Regions from separate parts of the Homo sapiens genome. Here region 2 is linked to region 1. Evidence: fine-mapped expression QTL. A gene starts in region 1. The other region holds a variant in brackets. All regions are shown on one strand. Distances are between the middles of the regions. Region 1 holds the start of MAP3K15 (mitogen-activated protein kinase kinase kinase 15). Region 2 overlaps MAP3K15 (mitogen-activated protein kinase kinase kinase 15).

Region 1 (4,267 bases):
CAGCCTCGCCACCATCTGTTATTTTTTGACTTTTTAATAATAGCCATTCTGACTGGTGTGAGATGGTATCTAGTTGTGGTTTTGATTTGCATTTCTCTAATGATCAGTGATGTTGAGGCTTTTCTTTCATATGATTGTTGGCCACATGTATGTCTTCTTTTGAAGAGTGTCTGTTCATGTCCTTTGCCCACTTTTTAATGGGGCTGTTTGTTGTTTTCTTGTAAATTTAAGTTATTTATAGATGCTGGATATTAGACCTTTGTCAGATGCATAGTTTGCAAAAATTTTCTCCCATTCTGTAGGTTGTTTGTTCACTCTGTTGACACATACATGTGTATGTTCATTGCAGCACTATTCACAATAGCCAAGACATGAAATCAATCTAAATGCTCATCAATGGTAGATTGAATAAAGAAAATGTGGTACATACACACCATGGAATACTATGCAGCCATAAAAAAGAATGAGATCATGTCCTTTGCAGGAACATGGATGGAGCTGGAGGCCATTATTCTTAGCAAACAAATGCAGAAACAGAAAACCAAATGCCCCATGTTCTTACTCATAAGTGGGAGCTAAATGATGAGAACACATGGACACATGGAGGGGAACAACACACACTGTGGCCTATCAGAGGGTGAAGGGTGGGAGGAAGGAGAGGATCAGGAAAAATAACTAATGGGTACTAGCCTTAATGCCTGGGTGATGAAATAATCTATACAACACACCCCAATGACACAAGTTTACCTGTGTAACAAACCTGCACATATACCCCTGAACTTAAATGAAAAACAACAGATTGTATTCCATAAATATATACAATTATTTGTCAATTAAAAATAAAGTTTAAAAATAATATTGCAATTGAAAAAAGAAAAACCTCCAAGTCTGTGACAGCGTCCGGTGCATTCTATCTTTTAGAAAACAATGACCCAGGTGCGGTGGCTCACGCCTGTAATCCTAGCACTTGGAGAGGCTGAGGCGGGCGGGTCGCTTGAACTCGGGAATTCGACAGCAGCCTGGCCAACATAGTGAAACCCCGTCTCTACTAAAAATACAAAAAAAAAAAAAAAAAAAAAAAAATTAGCCGGACATGGTGAGGTGCGTGCCTGTAATCCCAGCTACTCTGAAGGCTGAGGTGGGAGGATCGCTTGAGCCCCGAGAAGCAGAGGTTGTAGTGAGCCTAGAGCAGAGATCGCGCCACTGCACTCCAGCCTGGGCGATAGCGACAGACTTTGTCTCAAAAAAGATAAAAAATAAGAATAATGGTATTACCCTCAGTGGTAACACTATTTTCTTTTAATATTTGTGTCCAAATTCGTGAAGTGCCTAAGATCCGAGTGAGGGCCCCTTTGAGTTCACGGCATTTTCAAAGGTCAGGCAGGCAGCGTACTTGGAGTCTATCTTCCAGACAAAATTTGTTGCTGGTGCCTCCCTGTGCCTTGTCAAGGTCACGGCGAAAGCCAGGACGAGCTCGCCTCCGGCACAGGGCTCACGGGGGGCCGTGCGCTTGGCAACCAGGGATGAAGCATCCGTTCATCCCAATGCCGGGTGAAAACTATTAATACGTCTGTATTGAGTTGGGAATAGAACATTTCCATCCAACCGATGCTTTGAAAGAGTTTTTACCCTGCTCGAATGCTTCAAGTTGTTTTGAGAAAAAAGAAATTGGAGCTCCTAATGGTGGTCAGGCTAGAGGGATGGCCAAAACAAAAAACAAAAAACAAAACAAAAAAAAAAACAACCCCAATTCCTGTTCCCGTGTTCGGCGTCTCCCGGCTGCGGGCGGGCGCTGCCTGGAGGGGGCAGCAGGGGGCACCCTCCCCGCTCCTGCCCCGCCGCCCTCCCCGGCCCCCTCCCCGCCCCTCGCTCGCCCTGACGTCCCCAGCCCCCGCCTCTTTCTCTCCGGCCTTCAAAGGGCGCTGGGGGCCTTGGGGCCTGAGCGTCAGGCTGCAGCCTAGGGGTACTGCCGTCTTCGGCCCGCCGCGGGGTCCCCGGTGCGCTCCGTTCCCTCGATTCCCGTAGCGTCCCGCGCTTCAGGAGCAGGTGCCGGGACCGCCTGCGCGGCTGCTGTAACTTGTGCCTCCTAGCGGATCGCAGCCGCTGGCCACTCGCCCAGGGGAAGGGCGCGCAGGCGGGCACATGGAGAGCGGCGGTGGGAATGCTCCGGCCGGGGCCCTCGGGGCGGCGAGCGAGTCCCCTCAGTGCCCGCCGCCGCCGGGGGTGGAGGGCGCGGCCGGGCCGGCGGAGCCCGACGGGGCGGCGGAGGGCGCGGCAGGCGGCAGCGGCGAGGGCGAGAGTGGGGGCGGGCCGCGGCGGGCTCTGCGGGCAGTATACGTGCGCAGTGAGAGCTCCCAGGGCGGCGCGGCCGGCGGCCCGGAGGCTGGGGCGCGGCAGTGCCTGCTGCGGGCCTGCGAGGCCGAGGGCGCTCACCTCACCTCCGTGCCCTTCGGGGAGCTGGACTTCGGGGAGACGGCCGTGCTCGACGCCTTCTACGACGCAGGTGAGAGCGGCTTCGTCCCCACCTCAGTCCCAGTTCACCTACCCTCACACGAGCCAGGGCACCCGCCCCGCCCCCTCGCCCTTCTCCCCCGTCCCCCTCCCCCTCGTCCCCCTCCCCTCCCCCTCGTCCCCCTCCCCTCCCCCTCGTCCCCCTCCCCTCCCCCTAGTCCCCCTCCCCTCCCCCAGTCCCCCTCGTCTCTAGTCCCCCTCCCCTTATCCCCCTCCCCTTATCCCCCTCCCCCAGTCCCCCCTCCCGCAGGCCCCCCTCCCCTTAGTCCCCTCTCCCCTTAGTCTCCCTCCCCTTAGTCCACCTCCCCTTCCCCTAGTCCCCTTCCTCTCATCCCCCTCCCCTTAGCCCCCCTCCTATCCTCTCACCCCCTGATCCGTCCAACAGGACCGTCCTGCCTTTGGGGGAGGGTAGAGTCTTTAACATTGTGCCCTTTTACAGATAAGAAAATAGAGGCCACGGGCATTTAGACTCTTTGATTCTTCAGGCATCTTAAACATCAGATAACCCAAGAAACAGCCTGTAACCCAGACCCTACCAAGCCCCCCTTCTCCCAAGTTATCCAACTTTTGCTTTCTCATTCCTGGAAGGTCTCTTACGGCCGTGGGTCCCAACGCAGGCTACATATTAGAATCACCTGGGGAGCTTTTAAAACTCTGGGTGCCCAGATCGGACCCCAGACCAATGACATAAGCACCCGAGGCCTTAGAAGTGTCATGCTTCCCAGGCGATTCCATTTTGCAGCCAGGAGTGGAAATCGGTGTCTTACGTGTGTGTGTGTTGCCTCTACTTAGAAATACCCAGTGTTCTTTTGCACACTTCAATTCTCGTCCCCAAAACACTGACGGTGGAGTGTGAGCCACCACCCTGTGACGTATATTTTATCCCATAATGCACAGCATTCACGGGTTAGGGGGCACCTTTGCTGGAGTGGGACTCTAGGTCTCTAAACTCACTATAATAAATGTGCCTGAGAATCCAGCCTTAAGAAGCGTACTTTGGATTGGCAAGAGTTTCTCTCGGTGTGGAATGAATTGTTGCTTGACGTTTTTTCCCTTACAGCACCTTTGGTGACAAACCTCTGTCACCTGGGTGACGTTCAGAAGCATTATATGTGAGACAGTAATTACCTGGGAGTCCTTGTGCCTCAGTTTCTGGTCAAAGGGAGTTAACAGTGCCTACCCTAAACCTAAAAGCTGATGAGATAGGATATGGGAAGTTGCTTTGCTGTAATAGTAAGCTAGGATGATTAGGATTCAGCCTCTGCTGGAGGCAGCGCAGATCTGTTTTTCTTGCAGAGCAAATTCTCCCCAGCTGGAAGGGCGGGGTAGGGGGGGAGTCAGGCTTGTTTAAACAAGTGGCAGCTGGACCCATTGAAAGCACTCTCCTGACATTTCTGACCACACTGAGTATACTCTTCAGCACAACATCTTTTTAGAAAAGTCGTTCAGGAGTCCACTTCACCTAGAACCACTCCGTTTTCTCAACTTGTATTCATTCTGCTCCAAAATTGGAGTTTGAACAGACTCTTCTCTGAACGGTTAAATGTTCCTTTTGCCATGAGGCACAACACTCTCCTTCCTGCTGGTGCCACCTCTGAAAGATTTGTGTGCGGTGGCTTTTGCTTTCCCTGGGGCGGAGTGTGTGTGTACGGGGGGCCCTTCTAACAGGTCGACTGTGAAGATGCAGACGTCAAATCTCAGGCTTTCAATTCTGGAGCCACACAACAGACACGTCACCTTGGCTCACTCTGGCCTG
Region 2 (4,267 bases), 23 kb after region 1:
TCAAAAGTTTTCAACGAACTAAAGTCCTATGCATCATCTTTCTTATTTAACACTAGCGTGTTTCAAGGTCCTTGTAATTGACCTCCTGCTTGAGGTCATTGTAACTGGTTTTTAAATTACACTTTCCTGCTAAGCATAGATTTCAACTGGAACCTTGGCTTTTTGCAAATCCTTGATGTAGTATCTCTCTCCCTCCTCCTCTCTCTCTCTCTTAAAAAGACAGAGTCTCATTATGTTGCCCAGACTGGACTTGAACTTCTAGGTTCAAGTGCTCCTCTTGCCTCAGCCTCCAGAGTAGCTGGGACTTCAGGCACACGCCACCATGCCTGGTATCACTTCTTAAAGTTTGCTAAACCAAGATAGGTAGGGTGGGTGTGTGTGCCTGCCTCAGGGTCAGAAAAGATGGTTTATATGATATGTGTTTTTTTTTTCCCTGAAGCTGGCCTGCGTCAGTAGGAACTGAAAGGTAATGGTTGCTAGGAGCACAGGGTGTATTTGGGAATGAAAATCTGAATTTTATCTCTTCCTTTTTATCTGTGATCTTTTTGCTTAAGATTTAGCCTGATATATAAATTTGTTTTGCCCCCAGGTAGCTCAGTTTTACACAGTGTGTCAGGAATGTACTAAGCCTCATGAGGGCATCGGGGAACACAGGACTTGGGGTTGGAAAAGCTGATTTTGAGCCCTGACTTGTTCATGCTGTACTTGAGCGACCTTGGGCGAGTCTGTTAACCTCTTTGCACTTCATTTTTCTACCTGCTTAGTGAAGCCAGTGCTTGCCCTGCCTGCCTGCTGGGGTTCTGAAATTCAACTGAGAAGTCTGTGGAAGTGTTTTGTAAATGGCAAAGCATGTGACCACGGTGATGATGAAAGGTTTTAGGTAACTGGTGCTCTCTTTAGGGATAAAGCCCTTTTTTCTTTGTATAGAATAAAAGTTCCAATCTGGTGTTTTATTACAATTAACAATTTATAAATCAGATGCTAAATTCGTGTTTTAGGAATTCTGAAAATAAGCCAGTTGCATACTATTTTGGTATAAATCCTCAAAGTGAACTTAGTCTACTGGCCTGAGTGACAAATGTCAGGCAAAAATTCCAACTTTAGATTCGAGGCAGTTTTCCTATTGAACATGAATTGCTCAGAATTTTTTTTTTTTTTTTTTTTGAGTAGCAGTATTAATATGTCCTGTTTTCATTGACAGTGAAAAGTCTCTCCCAATCCTTGGTAGGCCGGTGGGTCCCAGCACAGAATGTTGAGAAGGCAAAGAAGGGAGGACTTCATGTCACTTGATCAAAATGGAATCTTGGCAACAAGTTCCTCTGCCACGTTCAAGGTTGCCTGTGAAAATGGGCTGTGTGACTTCGGGACTACTGTCCCTATCCTCCCTTCTGCCCCGTTCCGCTATTCCCCTTTGTCTGTTTCTATTTGCTTCCTTGCCTTTATTAACTAATTATAACAGTCACCATGGCCTTGGAATTAATATCTATGTTGCTACTTTTTCATAACATCACTATGAAACATGTAATTTTAAAAAAAATCTTTTGAGACAGAGTTTCGCTCTTGTCATCCAGGCTGGGGTACAGTGGTGCAACCTTGGCTCACTGCAACCGCCTCCTCCCAGGTTCAAGTGATTCTCCTGCCTCAGCCTCCCGAGTAGCTGGGATTACAGGCGCCCACCCCACACCCAGCTAATTTTTTGTATTTTTAGTAGAGACGGGATTTCACCACGTTGGGTAGGCTGGTCTCAAACTACTGACCTGAGGTGATCCACCCACCTCCGCCTCCCAAAGTGCTGGGATTACAGGCGTGAGCCACCGCGCCCGGCCTGAAACATATAATTTTTAATGTAGATAAGTAAGAGTCCAGGAAGCAATCCTATAGGCAGAATGTCTAATTTACTCAGCTGCAGTGGCGC[A/G]TTATCTTGACTCTAAGCAAATGTCTTTGGGGAGTGGAATTACCCATTTGAGAGAAATTGATGAGGCTGGGTTGTAGAGTGTTTCCTCAGTATAGACGTGCATCCTTTCATTAGTAGATGACCTCTAAAGGGTAAATTTGACTCTGAGAGTCTCCTGCTAAAAAACTCTCTTGATTATTTAAAAATATTTTTAGGTGAGACATTGATACTATGGTTATTTTTTTCTTTGAGTTCTCATCTTTTAGTGATATATCCTGAAATATTGGGGGATAAAACAACGTGGTGTCTGGTGGGATTTATTTTAAAATAACACAGGGAGGGAGGGGTGGATGTTGCGGATGGTAGTAAAGATGAAACAAAGCCGGCCTTGAGTTGATCGTTGTTGAGGTGGGAGGTATGGAGATTTCATTATACTATTCTGTCTACTTTTTATGTATATTTGTAGTTCTGCATAATAAAAAGTTTTAAAGAGGCCAGGAGCAGTGGCTCACAGCTGTAATCCTAGCACTCTAAGAGGCCGAGGTGGGAGGATTGCCTGAGCCCAGGAGTTCAAGACCACCCTGGGCAACAGAGTGAGACCCCATCTCTGTTTAAAAAAAAAAAAAAAAGTAGCCAGGTGCAGTGGCTAACGCCTGTAATCCCAGCACTTTGGGAGGCTGAGGTGGGCGGATCGCTTGAGGTCAGGAGTTTGAGACCAGCCTGGCCAACGTGGTGAAACCCCATCTCTGCTAAAAATACGACAAAATTAGCCGGGCATGGTGGCACATGCCTGTAGTCCCAGCTACTCTGGAGGCCAAGGCACAAGAATAGCTTGAGCCTGGGAGGTGGAGGTTGCAGTGAGCCGAGATCGTACCCATGCATTTTTGAGACTCTGTCTCAAAAATAAATAAGTAAGTAAAAATAAAAAGTTAAAAAACCCAACCATAGGTTTCCCATTGCCTCAAGGAAGGTCCAGCCCTCCACCTCCAGGCTCGTTTTCTGGGGTATTGTGGCCCCAGGAAGTGATATGTGGGTGGCCTTCACACTTACACCCTGGCTTGCTGCTGGCCCCTTGCACTAGCTGGCTTCTGTTAATGCACCGCTCTTTCCTTCCCTTTGATCCCCCATATCCTCATCCCATTTGCCTGCCTGACTCTTACAGAGCCTCAGGTCATGGACAGTATCCCTTCCTCCAGGCATTCTGTGATTGCCCTCCGCTCAGGTGTGGATTATGTGCCCTCCTGGGGGTGCTCTGTTCACTGTTTCCCTTATTTTGGCTGCCCTCATGGTGATCCTAACCATCCCCTTCCTTCTGGTTACCCACATTGTATTGTAGTTGGTTTTTTCTTTTGAGGAAAGTGATTATGCCCTGTTGACACTTCTATCCCTGGCACCCATCAGAATCCTGCCATACAGCAGGCAATCCATAAATAAGAGAATAAAGGGCCCACTCTGGGGCTTAGTGGCACTTGGCCTCAGGTTCCCAGCGCCTCTCTACAGAGCTAGCGGTGTCTGGTGCTGATATGCTGCCTGCCTGCCTTCATGTTTCTTCACGCCCTTGTTCAACTGGCCTCTGTTGTGTCCCATCGGGATTTTGAGTGACTTTCTAGAAGTCACAGCAGTGCGAGCATGAGTTTGGACACTACATTCCTATATCTCCACTGCACATGGTAAGGAAGCTCCCATCAAACTTGGAACTCTTACATCCTCTAGAATGTTTTGAGTTTTAAAACGGTGCCCCATACTACTAAGCGTAATTTAAACATGCTCATTATTCATGTAATAAGTTGCTCCTCTGTTTTGAATAGGTCTCTATTACAGGGTGCAACTCCAGGGTGCATTTTATTTTTTTTTTTTTTTTAGTTTATGAGACAAGGTCTTACTCTGTCACTTAGGCTGGAGAGCAGTGGCATGATCACAGCTCACTGCAACCTCGACCTCCCAGTCTCCAGCCATCCACCCACCTTAGCCTCCTGAATAACTGGGACTACAGGCACGCACCACCACACCCGGCTAATTTTTTGTATTTTTTATAGAGATGGGGTTTCGCCATGTTGTCCAGGCTGGTCTTGAACTGCTGAGCTCAAGCATTCTGCCCACCTCGGCCAACTAAAGTGTTGGGATTACAGGCATGAGCCACTGCGCCCAGCCAGGGCACGTTATATGTTGTTAAGTTGATGGTAGACATGTGAGCCAGGAGCTATGACAGGACTGTTTATTGCAGCAGTGTGAAATAGGAAATGAATAAAAATCTGTCACAACAGAATTCTATACAGAAGCGAAAACGTATGAACTGGAGCTAAACGCACAAATTGGTTGAATGCCACCAAAAAATAGCAAGCTGAAGAATACATACAATGCAATACCATTTAT

What was found. PIP is the estimated chance that this variant, and not a neighbour inherited with it, causes the effect. A credible set is the group of variants that fine-mapping cannot tell apart.
Region 2: its variant is the best candidate, but not a certain one, in a credible set for the expression of MAP3K15 in whole blood (TOPMed, PIP 0.77).

Annotation. Positions count from the first base shown.
Region 1 is chrX:19,513,137-19,517,403 of GRCh38, reverse strand. MAP3K15 (mitogen-activated protein kinase kinase kinase 15) reads left to right here and starts at 1,896. Exons shown (of 29, transcript NM_001001671.4): 1 at 1,896-2,503. The coding sequence starts at 2,143.
Region 2 is chrX:19,490,244-19,494,510 of GRCh38, reverse strand. The region is part of intron 1 of MAP3K15 (mitogen-activated protein kinase kinase kinase 15); the gene reads left to right. Among named protein-coding and RNA genes, the nearest start is that of MAP3K15, 23 kb to the left of the region's middle. The variant A/G (reference allele first, on the strand shown) is at 1,916.